Linked DNA regions of Homo sapiens. The protein of the gene in region 2 purifies or fractionates together with the protein of the main gene of each other region. This does not show direct contact. Each region holds a gene or a part of one and is shown on either strand. Other genes may lie near its edges.

Region 1 (3,500 bases), on a different chromosome or scaffold from region 2:
AGATAGAGATATTCTTGTAAATGTTTGCACTGTGTCTTAATGGAAAAATAAGGTTTTTCTTGAAGCAAAAGTAAAAAGACCAGTTTTTAAAAATTACTTGATGCTTTGACTTTGTAGATTACCCTTTTTAACCCAAGTGTTGTCACATTCCCCTGAAAGTTTTAAAACATGATTTATACTAACTTTATCTACATAAACCAAAAACATGTCTTTGGGCACTTTCAGTAAACAAGTTGTCATGTTTCAGAGGAGCTGCTTTAGAACTTTTTGAAGCCTAACTTTGTTGCTGCCCAAGGTCTCACTTACTGCCCCCAGATGCTTCTGTTGCTGCTTCCGAGAACCCTAGAACCTGGGTACTTCTGTGAATGCAGGGCTGCCTGAAGGACTCTTACAATTAGGGAGTATGAAACTCATCACGTAAGGGGCATTGAGATTACACTAGACCACAGGCTCTGTCCAGATTCTGTCCAGGGAGAAGCACAAGACCAAAATTAACCCCCTCCTTTCCCCTTCTAAAAGCACAAACCAATCAACCAAGCAAAAATACCTTACTTTTTCTTTTCCCAAGAGTTTAAGTGACTTTTTAAAATTAGATTACAAAGACATCTAAGTTAGGATGAAAATATTAAGATATGTGTTTTATTTAAGTAGCATTACTGCAGATAACCCAAGTGAAAGTTTAATTATCCCTCTTTTTCTATTTTTCTTTTATCTGGACACAGCATAAAATTTGGGTTTATTGAATATTAATTCAAGACTCTTGCATGTAAATCTTAAGCCTGAAAGTTTAGGGTTTTTTCTGTATCATTTCCTAAATTCCTGAAATAATAAGGCTGTTTATGTTTCTGTGAAGAAGTATAGATTTTTAAACCCTTTTTATGAATGAATAAATGATTAAGAGTGGACGCTGACAGATGTTGGTTTATTTTCTAGCTGGGAGACATCAGACAGCTCTCCCAACTGCAGGAACTTGAAGTTAAAGCTACTTCACAGGGTTGCTGTAGACCCCCGTGAGATAACATGACGAGTGTGTAGTCAGTTAAATGTTAGTAGGCATCTAACACATTTGTTTTCCTTTATTCAGGCTGACTGGCTTCTGGTGGTGGTTTACTGTCTTTGAGTAGGCAGGAAGAAGGGAGCTATAAGAAGTAGTGTTTCTTCCTTGGTTAAAAAAAAAATCACTTTAATAAAGGAACAAAATCTTAACACAGTTCCTTTGGCTCTTAATTTCAGTTTGTCCACACTAGAAATTGAAAATAGAGCCCAAGACCTTCATCTCTTTGAGACTTTGAAGACTGATCCAGAAGCCTTTCACCAGCACATGGTCAAGTATATTTACCCTACTATTGGTGGCTTTGATCACGAAAGGCTGCAGTATTATTTCACTCTTCTGGAAAACTGTGGCTGTGCAGATTTGGGGAACTGTGCCATTAAACCAGAAACCCACATTCGACTGCTGAAGAAGTTTAAGGTTGTTGCATCAGGTAGGATGGTTGTTTCCCTGCTTGAATTCATTCTTTTCAATTAAATCTGGGGATTAATTTTCTGTACACAATCCTGTTCATGCATTATGGTTGCAGAGCTCTGAAACCACAGAATTTTGAAGCTAATCGACTTTAGTTATTATCTTTCCAACTCTTTCACTTATAGTTGAGGGAATTAAATACCAGAAAAAGTAAGAAACCTATTGAAAGTCGCACAGTGACTTATGGTAGACTTGGTACTAAAATCCAAAGTTTTGGACTTCTGCTCCAGGATTTTTTCACTACTCCCATTGATTATATTTTATGTATATAAATGGCAAGGCCAAGACACTTTATAATAGGCAGTTGAGCAGAATTTCATTCCACTGGAGCCTATATGTTTAAAATATGCATGGAACACTTAAGAGCCTTTGAATATTTGATAAATTATGGAAATCTTTAGAATGGTCTTTATGCTCATAACTAAGAAATTAAACACTTTAAGACCTCTTAATTTTTATACTTCATAATTTGCAAGGCACATTCAAATCTGTTTGTTTGATATTCATAATAATTGTGAGAGTTCCCATCAGTTTATCAGTTGTTTTCTGAATAATCAAATGAGACACTGGCCTAGACACAGAGGATAAGGGAATAAGATTCAATCCTTGCCTTCAAGTAACTAGTGAAATGCCAGATAAATAACAAAGAAATGTAATGCAGTTTGTTGAAGCACTGATAGAAGAAAACATAGGTGCTGCGGCGGATTCGAAAGGCATGGAGATATTGTCATCTCTAGGGTACAAACAAGGAGATGGAGGCACACAGAAGATGAATGGCCTATCTGGGATCACAAAGCCGAATAAGTTTCAGGCTGTGACTGGAACTCAGATCTCCTGATCTTTCTAATAGAAAATATAAACTAGCTACTTAGAGCTAAGTTGATAGATCTTTGCGTTCAGACATATAGAGGGCTATGTGTGTGTGTTTGAAAGTGACTCTATGTTTACATTGGAATGAACCACTTACCTACTTTCTTTTTTTTTCTGCTAGGTCTTAATTACAAAAAGCTGACAGATGAAAACATGAGTCCTCTTGAAGCATTGGAGCCAGTTCTTTCAAGTCAAAATATCTTGTCTATTTCCAAACTTGTTCCCAAAATCCCTGAAAAGGATGGACAGATGCTTTCCCCAAGCTCTCTGTACACCATCTGGTTACAGAAGTTGTTCTGGACTGGAGACCCTCATCTCATTAAACAAGTCCCAGGCTCTTCACCGGAGTGGCTTCATGCCTATGATGTCTGCATGAAGTACTTTGATCGTCTCCACCCAGGTGACCTCATCACTGTGGTAGATGCAGTTACATTTTCTCCAAAAGCTGTGACCAAGGTAAACAAAAAGATATTTTAAAGTGGTTTGAGCACAGTAGAAGAAATGAAAATTTCTCCTACATTCTGTAGATTTTATTTTTGTTTCCTTTCTTGAAAATAATTACATGTTGGCTTTTTAAAAAGTTTTTGTTCATTTGCTGTGAATGAGGTGTTTTAATTAGGAAATTTTTTTTCTCTATTGTAGATGTACAAATATGCTAAAATAGAGATGACTATTCTCATTTACACGTATACTTAGTACATGTTACAGTTCTCATGTCACTTTATAGTAAATATGCCATTCTGTTCTTTCCAGTTGACAAATGTAAAGGAGCTCCAGTGCCCAGCCCAGATTACCTGCATTCGGAAACCAGGCTAACAACTTAGCTTGGGTTAGCCTGAGTCTTTAAAAAAGTTATTGGCCGGGCATAGCGGCTCAAGCCTGTAATCCCAGCACTTTGGGAGGCCAAGGCAGGCAGATTACCTGAGATCAGGAGTTTGAGACCAGCCTGGCCAATATGGTGAAATCCCATCTCTACTAGAAGAAAAAAAAAAACCAAAAAAAAAAAAATTACCTGGGTGTGGTGGTATGCACCTGTAGTCCCAGCTACTCGGGAGGCTGAGGCAGGAGAATTGCTTGAACCTACGAAACGGAGGTTGGAGTGAGC
Region 2 (3,500 bases):
GCCTCTATTTTTGACCAAGATAGAGTAAGCCCACTACAGCTTGTTTCTCTGCTGATTACAGCTAAACTACTGGATAAAATACAAAAGCAACCACCCTTGAACTCTGAAAAGTAAATAAAAAGAGACTAAGGAGAGGAGCAAACACGTGGAGAAACAACCACCATGGGAATGAGTTTCTCGGGTTTTTTTCCATTTCCTCTTGCAGCATTCATTGCCCTGCCCTGAGAGAAGCCCACAGTTGTGGAGCTGGGCAGCAAAGGCTGCAACAATGAAAACTCCAAAAGAAACCCCGCCTTTCTAACCAGCAATGGGAGAAGAGGTCCCATTGTTTTCCTCTCCTTTGGCTTTGCTCCAAGCTTGTCCCAGGCATGGAGCTACACTGTGATGATGGCTCAGGTTGATAAAACTCCACAAGGACCCCAGTCTCTTTTGCCAGAGGAACTAGGAAAATGAGCTAGAGAGCAAGGAGAAAATTCCGGAAAGGAGAGAGCTGGAAACGGAGTCCCCTGAGTGTGGATGTGGCCCACACAAGTCTTGGGTTTACTCTTCAGCTGTGCTGAGACAGGCCTCAAAGTAGCAGTGCAGCGCAAAGCTTGGAGAGCTAAGATTTCATCACTGTCGAAGTGTTGCACTGCCCTCTGAAGGGCTTATGCATGGAACAGGCCCAAAGCCACATAGCAAAGGATTTGAATTAAGTGTAGAACTTCCATCCACCAAAAACAAGGCACCACATGTAGTCTGAACCTAACTGGGGTGATTACCTGCTGAAAACATCTGTACTCTCCTGAAAATTAAGCAGAGGCTGTGCAGCATCACATTCACAGTACAATCCAGAATTACTCAACATGCAAGAACCTGGAAATATGACCAGTTTTCAGGAGAAAAGACAACTGATGGCAACCCGGCAGTGACCAGGGTTGTTGGCATTATCACATAAAGACTGAAGCAACTATAAGTTGCTCCATGAGGTAAAGATAAACACAATTAAAATGAATAGAAAAGAGGACCTGTTGTTTTTTATAGGAAAAATTATTTTTATAGAAACTATAAAAATGAACTAATTGGGAATTTTAGGACTGGCAAATACATTATTGAAGTAAAATAATTGGATAAGCTTAATCTCAGAGATGACAGAAGGAAGACTTTGTGAACTTAAAGATAGATCAGTAAAAGTTACCTAAACAATAGAGACACCAAAAGATGGAAAAATACTTCATGAAGACCTATTTTTCCAGTAATTTATCAGTCATATCCTTGATCTTATTACTACTTTTATTGTTGACTTATCAATACTATCATTGTTTCTGTTATCTGAAGTTTTCACTCATACATCTTTTTCCTAGTTTCTTTTTAAGGATTCTAAGTATCATTGTGGTGTTACGGGTCCCCCCCACTTCTTTTTTATTCACTTTTCAAGATTGAATCTGTGTAGATATTTGAAAGAGATCTCTTTAAAACGTGGTTGTGATCTAAGGCTTGTGTCAAAGTGCGGTCCCCAGACCAGCAGCAGGAGTGCCCCCTGGAATTTGTTAGAAATGGGTGAATCCCAGGCTTGCCCCTAGCAGCCAAATTCCAGGACATGAGAATTGGAAAAGTACTGTTCTAGGATATTTCCCCTCAGGTGTCCCGTGGAAGTTACTATAGCATTTATAAATCTCTGTTTATACAAACAAAGACTCTGAAAGTTAAACTCCAGGTGTTTTCAATACTGCCAGGTTATTGACTTTATTAAACAGATGTAAATTTGACCATGATCCTCTCTTTTGTTTTAGAAAACAATTGCTCAAGTCTTAGTTCATCTACACAGAAATGACTATGTAGCTGCAGAAAGATGTGTCCGGGAGAGCTATAGGTAAGACGTTGTCTGGGCCCTCTTGACTTGCAGTGGCGACACCTCTGTGTCTACAACTAAGATTGCTGCTAGGACACATGTTCCTGGCCATGAAACTGTCATTTCTAAATCTTAGGAGTGCTCATCTACCATTTCATCTTTTACAGTGGGTGTTTTACACCTTTTTTTTTTTTCCCTTTCCTGTATTTTTCTCTAGGGGACCTCCATGGAAGTGAATGACTTTAGTCATTTTAGTCATTTTATTTGCCTTCTAAGAAAAAAAGAACAAGAAAAAGGGGGAAAAAATTATCAGATTTATGTTACAGAAATCAAAATGAGGAATTTTCTCGGTGTTTAACATGAGCAGTCTTAATCTCAACACTGTTAACATTTGGGCTGGATAATTCTTTGTGGTCGGGCCTGTCCTGTGCACTGTAGGCTGGTTAGCGGGATCCCCGGTCTCTGCCCTCTAGATGCCACTAGCATTCCCACACTTTTAAGTACCAAAATGTCTCCAGACAGTGTCACATGCCAGGGGCAGAATCATCCCTGCCTGAGATGTGTTCTTTTAAGGAGAAGGTGAAGACGTGTGATTTGTGCTTACTGCAGCATCCCTGGGTTCAATGGCAGTGAAGACTGTGCTGCCCTGGAACAGCTTCTTGAAGGTTATGACCAGCAAGACCAAGATCAGGTGTCAGATGTCTGCAACTCACCGCTTTTCAAGTACATGGACAATGATGTAAGTGGACCCATTTGCATAGCTTTCATCTTTTCTCTTGAAAGAAAGAGGTTTCTAGTGAGATTATTTTTTACCCATGTACTTAAGAGATTTTTTCCTACCTCTTTTTTTCTTCTCAAGCTACTACTCATAAGGAAACTGACCACTTGCATTGAATTTCACCATAGATTTAGATAAAATAGATGTTAGTTGTGTGGTGTATAGCCATTTACTCACCCATCTAACTCTGTTGACCATATACATATTTTAAAATTGAGGCTCATTTCTCCACTTTTCCTCTATCTGTTGTCCTCTGTAGGTTGCTTTTATTCATTTCTTTTAGACGGACTCTCTGAAAGAGGTCCATTCTGTAGTGGCCTTTGTAATTCAGTAGACCTATGAAAATCTGTGAGGACTAGCTGTGTGTTGCAGGTCATTAATTATCTCTAAGCCTCAGTTAATTCATTTGTAAAAATGAAGCCACTAGTACCTGTCTTGCTGGACTGTTGTGAAGAATACATTAGTCAGTGTGTGAGAAATATCCTCACATGATGTCTTGCACATAAAGTGAACCATGACTATAAGTTTTTATTTTTTCTCATTTGTCTTTTTCAGTAGATTTGTAAGTACCTGTTTGGCCTTAGGCCTTTAGAGTATCATCATAGTATCAGATCAACTTAAGGCCTTCAGTTGTTTATTATAATGATATATGTAGATAATTTTTTTTCTAAATAACGTCTTACATAGGTTTTGAAAATATATATATTTCTAAAGTTTTAATTAAAAAAAATTTATAATTGAAACTTTTACTAGTTGTGTACCTGTCCCACCATGGTCATGAGGCATCTGGGGAGCAGCATTGTTGGGCTTTGTTTTTCCATCTGAATGGTAGAATTGGTGTTCCTGAGGGTGGGGAGCCAGGCTGTGTCTTTTTAGAGCTGAGTAAAACAT
Region 3 (2,515 bases), on a different chromosome or scaffold from region 2:
CCCATGGAAGACCCATGTCCAGTGTTTGGTGACTGGAGTAGGGCAGCAGGCCTTTTGCTGCTTGGTATTTGGAGGAGGGTTGGATGGGGTTTGCCGTGGGGTTTTAAGCTGGACAGATAGCTGGCTAGACTGCCAGCCAGCTCATGTCTCTATTTCCGTGCAGCTCTGTGAGAGCGAGCGTGGGCACGGCTGTTTGACCTAGGTTCCCTTTGAAACTCTCAACAAAGCATTCTGATGTTCGACCTCTTTTCTCCGAATGAGGTAACAAATTATGAAACAACCTCATCAGAAGCTCTCTGCAGGCATCTGGGAGCGTGTGTCTCCACTCTGGTCCCCCTTCTAAGTTGCTGGTTCCCCATCAGCGTGCAGCCCAGCCAGAACCCAGGGAGGTAGAATCCCTGGAGGTAAAGGCCCAGCAACAGACGCACAACAGGCACCTTGAGTACATTGTATATTTCTCATTTCCATCTTTTTTGCTATGGAGCAAATGTAACGTTTCCTCCTAGCGTAACGGAGCGTGAGCCACACTGACAGATGATGGTTTCACAGCCTAAGCTGCACATTTGACACTTGTTTCTTAATCCCATCCTTTTCTTCCTTAGTCTCTGTTTTACTTTTCCCCAGGTATTTTTGTGCAGGTAAGTACATTGCTGACATGTGTTTCCTTGGAGTATTTTACTTTAACAGGAAACACTGCAAAAAATGAGGCTTGTCTCGCCTTTTAAATTAGAAAGAGAAGCTCGCAAGGGGCCCTTGATCACTTAAAGAGGCTACATGATTTTCTGAGCCTCGAAAGCCATTTGATTCGCCTTAGCTTTGCAGTAAGCATTTCTCGGAGGGCAGCGTGACAATCATGTGGAGCCTTTCGTTTCCTCGTGGATCGTTTGTAGAACCAGAAAGCTGCGTGATGTCTCTTTCGCGCGCGCACACACACACACACACACACACACACACACACGCTCCCCACCCCCACCTGCAAAGCTGCCGTTTGATTAGCCAACCTGGCCTCGGACGGCGTTTGTGGGAAGGCCTTCCACTTATCTGTGTGTGTTTTTTCTCCTTTGCTGTCTCCTAGAATCATCCAGAACCGCATCCTGCTCGTCATCCTAGGGATCATCGTGGTCATCACCATCCTGATGGCGATCACTTTTTCTGTCAGAAGACACTGATGTATCTGCTCTCCCTTGATAAACAGCAACAACAGCTTGTTCTGAGTAATTAAGACAAAATGGTCACATGAATCATTCTGTTGCGCTGACAGGCCCCAGGTGACCCTCTCTCTCCCTCACCGCCGTTGGGCTGAAGTGCAAAGAGTGTAAAAATATTTTCTATTCCTGTTTGCATGTGGGTTGGTTTCCTTTTCGAGGTTTGTCTTCACCCAGATTCGTTTTTTAGAGGGGAAGGTGAATGTTTATTTACCTTTTTGCTAATGTCATCAACTAGCCAAAATAGCCCCAGTGACACTCCTAGCCCTCTGGACGTGTCAAGGGCCGTGGTTTGGGAGAGGACATGATGAGTCAGTCACGAGAGCTTCTGTTTGTCACCCGCCTCTTGTTGCTGAAAAGCTCTTCTGTGATGTCTGAGGATAAAAATGCAGCAAAAAGCAGGGGATGGAGTCAGTGACCCCGTCCAGCAAGCCAGCCCTGTTCCTACACAGGCCTCATGAATATAGTCATCAACCTGCCTGAGTGCTTTCATTGTAAAGGTCGGTATTTAATGTCGGTTGTACAGGAAATTGACTTAGCACTTTCCCTGTTTTTCTATTGCATAATTTTTTTTTTAACCCAAAGATATTTTTTTTGCTGAGCCTGCCCAGTATTCACTGTTCACAACTTTGATTACTGGCTACAAGAAATATTTTCTTGCCTTCCCCAAATCCCATACTCCCCAGAATCTGCTGGCAAAGTGAGCCCTGGTACAGGATTTAATTGTGACCTCGTCTTCCCTGACCTGTGTAAGCATCTCTGTATCCTTTCGGTTTTAATATCTGCACTGCCAAAAGCAGTCCTCATACTTGCAAAAGGTCTGACAAGGTTCTCTCCACATACATTCCAGTATGTAAAGAGACCATGAATATTTCAGTAAGAGCAAGAACATGACTCCATCAGTGTGAAATTTCAAATGTGATTATAAATATGGGAGAGTCCTATAGGAGGGTCCACCAGAGATAAACTTCACGGAAAACGTTCCCTAACCTCCTTTAAAAGAATAGAGGATGGCAGATTGTTCCAAAAGGAATGGCTTGGGTTTTTAACTAACAAATGTTAGCAAGCCTTTCTTGAATTCACTATGTATTCAAACTTCTAATATGCTTTGTGATTTTTTTCTTTCATTTCTTTCTGTCTGAGGTAACCAGGAATTGCGTTCAAAATGAGCTCATTTGTGATCAGGCTTAAAAGTTGCCCAAGCTGAGGTCGTTTCCCCCCAGTCACAAAGCAGAATGTTTTTCTCAAGACTTCATAGGCACTTACTGGTCCGTACTATCTTTGGAATATAATTAGAAGCTTTGAATCCT
Region 4 (3,500 bases), on a different chromosome or scaffold from region 2:
AGTGGTTCGTTTTTGCCCTGGAGTTCTTACAAAGTTTCACTAGGTGGGTCTAGGTTTTTCTGCTATGGTCAGATGGAAAACTTAAACTTACAGAAAAGAAAGCTTTATATTTCAATCAAAACTCATACCCACAAAGTCCACAGGGGTTGCTGTTACAATTTAGACTCCCTGGGACCAGGTATCTTGTACTGGAGTCTTTCTTTGGAGGGGAGAAAACCTTTTATATACAGATAACCCTCCAATCAACCACCTTCCCACTACAGTTCCAAGTAGCCTGGCAGACCTGCCCAGTGGGCCAGCTAGAACAATGCAGTCCTTTGTTATGGCAGGATGATTTACAACACATGCAGGCTACCAGCACTGCCCCAGACACTACCCCTCCCTTCCTTGCCTTTTCAGAAATGTTTCAGAGCAAGAGAGAAACAAAGCCTCAGACCCTATTTGCAATGTTCCCTCCTCAGTTATATAATCCTAAGGAACATCAAATTTTCCCCACACTCATAATTCTAAAGCATGTCTAACTTCTCGAGCAACTTCAAATAAAAAGAGTTGTAATCTACCAACACTTGCCAACAGGCTTTTATTTAGAACTAATGAACTTGTAGGTGGAATCAGGAAGATCACAAACAGAGGGTTAAGGATAAATGGAAACGATCACTAATTGGACTCGCCAAAAGACAGACTGTCGCCTTCAGGAAAATAAAAAAACTTTTTTTTTTTTTTTTTAAGAATCACAGCAATCCAAGCAAAGTACCTCACTGAGTAGGTATCAAGACCCTTCAGGCAGAATTCCATCATTCTCGCAATTAGTGACAGGGACGCTGGTTGTGGAGGAGTATTTGGAGTGGTGGCAGAAAATTGCATCGGCATTTCCAGCTTGAGTAGGTCTTATCTTCTTAGCGGATGCTCAGAAGCCAAGGTCTGGATGCAGTCGGTCAGTTGCAAATAACAGCTCAGGAATGTTAAGTGGCTTCAGGAGTCGTGTGGACAGCACGATTACCTAACAACAGGAGAGGGCAAACACACCGCAGGGAATTAGGGGGGCCAATCTCAGGGTATTGGATGATGAGAAATAGAATGCAACAAATGTCTTTGGGGGAGGGCATGAAGTGAAGTTCTAGGAAGGAAAAGTAGAAGGCAGCCAGCTGAATGGCACCTGGCGCTAGTGCCCTGCCTGGAAGGAGGGGGGCACAGTCTGGGACAGATGGCCTGTGGGACAGCCGGGCTGTGTCTACTGAACCTTTAGCCAATGGGGCACTCAGGATGGCTGAGACTGGCACTAGGTACATTTGACAGGCAGAGCCCAGCCACTACCTTGCTGCTAAATTGAACTGGATCATATTCTTGCTTTGTAATGCAGTAATTTGACGTCAATATCAAGGTTTCTCCCCATTTCAGGGAGCCTTTGCTCCTCCAGGGAGCATGAGAAGGCACATCCAGGAGGTGGATGTTGTTAGTGATGATGGTGATTGTTAGTTTCCTAGTACCACAAACTGGGTGGCTTAAACAATGGAAACTTACTGTCTCATAGTTCTGGAGCCTAGAAGTCCAAGATCAAGGTGTTGGCAGGGTTGGCACCTTCTAAGGGCTGCGAGGGAATCTGTTCCATGCCTTTCTCCTAGCTACCTTGTGCCTTCACATTGTCTCTCCCTATGCATGTCTGTTGCTGTGTCCAAATTTCCCCTTCTTATATACATACAGTCACACTGGATTAGAGCCCACACTAAAGACCCTATTTTAACTTGATCATCTGCAAAGATCCTATTTCCAGTAAGGTCATATTCACAGATACCAGTGGGGAGGTTAGGACTGCAAGACATTTTAAAGGGGACACATTTCAACTCATAACGATGATGGGAATGATAGTGATAACTAATACTTGTTAATTTCTATGATGTGCCAGGTTCTGAGGATTATCTCATTGAATATCCATTTGATCCTGATATTGAGCTTATGAAATAGATACGTTTATTTTTCCTGCTTTGTAGATGAAGAAAATAAAGTACAGAAAGGCTCAGCAACTTGTACAAGGACACACATACAGTCAGCGGCTGAGTCAGGATCCCAGCGCAGACAGGCTGGCCCCAGTGCCCCCGTGCCTCCCTTCCCTGTCATCAAGGGCTCTGGGCCCTTTACTCCCTTACTCCACATGCACCTTTGGGCTCCTCTGGCTTCTTTCATGGTGACCCTTTCTGCTTCCCTCAGTCTGGATTTTATTCCAGGACAGATTTATCTCTGCAAAGGTGGGAGAGCCTATTCCCTGGGTCTGGGCTGGGGGCGTGATGTGCTTTGCAAGGGCCTGGTTAGGTTTTGCACAAGCAGTATTGTATGCACCCTAGAAGAAGAGGTGACTATGGGAAAAGCTGTCCTAGAGCCTGAATTCCACAGCCCACATCCCTTGGAAGGGGATTCCAAGGCCCACAGCATGACTACATGGCTACGCTCCTTTGGAGTGGTGCAAGTGGGCCCACACACTTTACTATCCTCCTTGCCCACTCCCAAAATTGTCCCAGGTATAATTAAATTAGTGAATTAACCAACCCCAAGTCCACGAGCTCATTGATGGAAAACAAAAAGTCTATACTCCAATGAAGAGAAAAAGTAGAAGAGGAAGAGAGAAGGAAGTATTTCTTGTTGTTAAAGAAAGAATTTTTCAACAACCTTATGAGAAAGTTTTCTGTTTAAAAAACTTAGTCTTTGGAAGCATCTATGTTACTTCTTGAAAGAGGATTATCTTTAACTATATATATATATATATATATATATATATATATATATATATATATATATATATAGTTAATGTCAGCCAAGTCATATTTTTGGCAGAAACAAATTCACTGAAATCTGTGTTTCACGATTTTCCTTGAAAATCATGCAAGGAGCCTTTGAGGACAGTGGGTGAAGATTGGCCTTCTCTATCATCTGCATGCATGATTTAGACACCGTTTGAATGTGTGTCTCCCGAGAGGGTCTCTACGTCTTTCAGGTCTTCCTCACCAAACCTAGTAGGTAATTGAGCCTGGCGGCTTCCAGGCGAGTGCCATCAGCAGACCCTGAGGAGATCCCAGCTCCACACTGACTGGCCAGATGCCTCCAGAAAGTCACAACTTACAGCCTTGCTCACCTCATCTCTCTCAGAAGGAAAATAACAGTGCCAAGCTTGAGGCAGTATGGCAAGGATTACATAAGATCGTGTATGTGGAGCACAGGAAGTGCTCAGCAACTGTGAGCTGCTGTATTATTGTGGTTTTGTGATTTGGTCCTAGATCTCCTTTTGAATCTTATGAAAGCTAAGAACTTTCTAGAAAAATACACAGACATTCATACAAGATTTTGTGTTATAGTTTTAGGGATGGTTCATGAACTCCTAGGAATTCACAGACCACAATTAAGAAGCCCTTTTTCGAACTGGGTGCGGTGGCTCACTCCTGTAATCCCAGCACTTTGGGAGGCCGATTTGGGTGGATCACCTGAGGTCAGGAGTTCAAGATGAGCCTGGG

The links. Proteins that work in one complex are often made in the same cells at the same time.
Region 1: the proteins of NAPG (region 2) and NBAS purify together in Homo sapiens (affinity purification with mass spectrometry; 3 studies listed by BioGRID and IntAct, with this or other methods). This does not show direct contact.
Region 3: the proteins of NAPG (region 2) and VTI1A purify together in Homo sapiens (affinity purification with mass spectrometry; 2 studies listed by BioGRID and IntAct, with this or other methods). This does not show direct contact.
Region 4: the proteins of NAPG (region 2) and SCFD2 purify together in Homo sapiens (affinity purification with mass spectrometry; 3 studies listed by BioGRID and IntAct, with this or other methods). This does not show direct contact.

The regions. Positions count from the first base shown.
Region 1 is NC_000002.12:15,274,835-15,278,334, reverse strand, and holds part of NBAS (NBAS subunit of NRZ tethering complex), read left to right. Parts: intron 1-1,233; coding exon 1,234-1,484; intron 1,485-2,516; coding exon 2,517-2,851; intron 2,852-3,500. UniProt on the Homo sapiens protein: Involved in Golgi-to-endoplasmic reticulum (ER) retrograde transport; the function is proposed to depend on its association in the NRZ complex which is believed to play a role in SNARE assembly at the ER. Required for normal embryonic development.
Region 2 is NC_000018.10:10,546,527-10,550,026, forward strand, and holds part of NAPG (gamma-soluble NSF attachment protein), read left to right. Parts: intron 1-1,772; coding exon 1,773-1,852; intron 1,853-2,440; coding exon 2,441-2,570; intron 2,571-3,500. UniProt on the Homo sapiens protein: Required for vesicular transport between the endoplasmic reticulum and the Golgi apparatus.
Region 3 is NC_000010.11:112,814,215-112,816,729, forward strand, and holds part of VTI1A (vesicle transport through interaction with t-SNAREs homolog 1A), read left to right. Parts: intron 1-1,075; coding exon 1,076-1,169; 3' UTR 1,170-2,515. UniProt on the Homo sapiens protein: V-SNARE that mediates vesicle transport pathways through interactions with t-SNAREs on the target membrane. These interactions are proposed to mediate aspects of the specificity of vesicle trafficking and to promote fusion of the lipid bilayers.
Region 4 is NC_000004.12:52,873,062-52,876,561, forward strand, and holds part of SCFD2 (sec1 family domain-containing protein 2), read right to left. Parts: intron 1,001-3,500; coding exon 908-1,000; 3' UTR 1-907. UniProt on the Homo sapiens protein: May be involved in protein transport.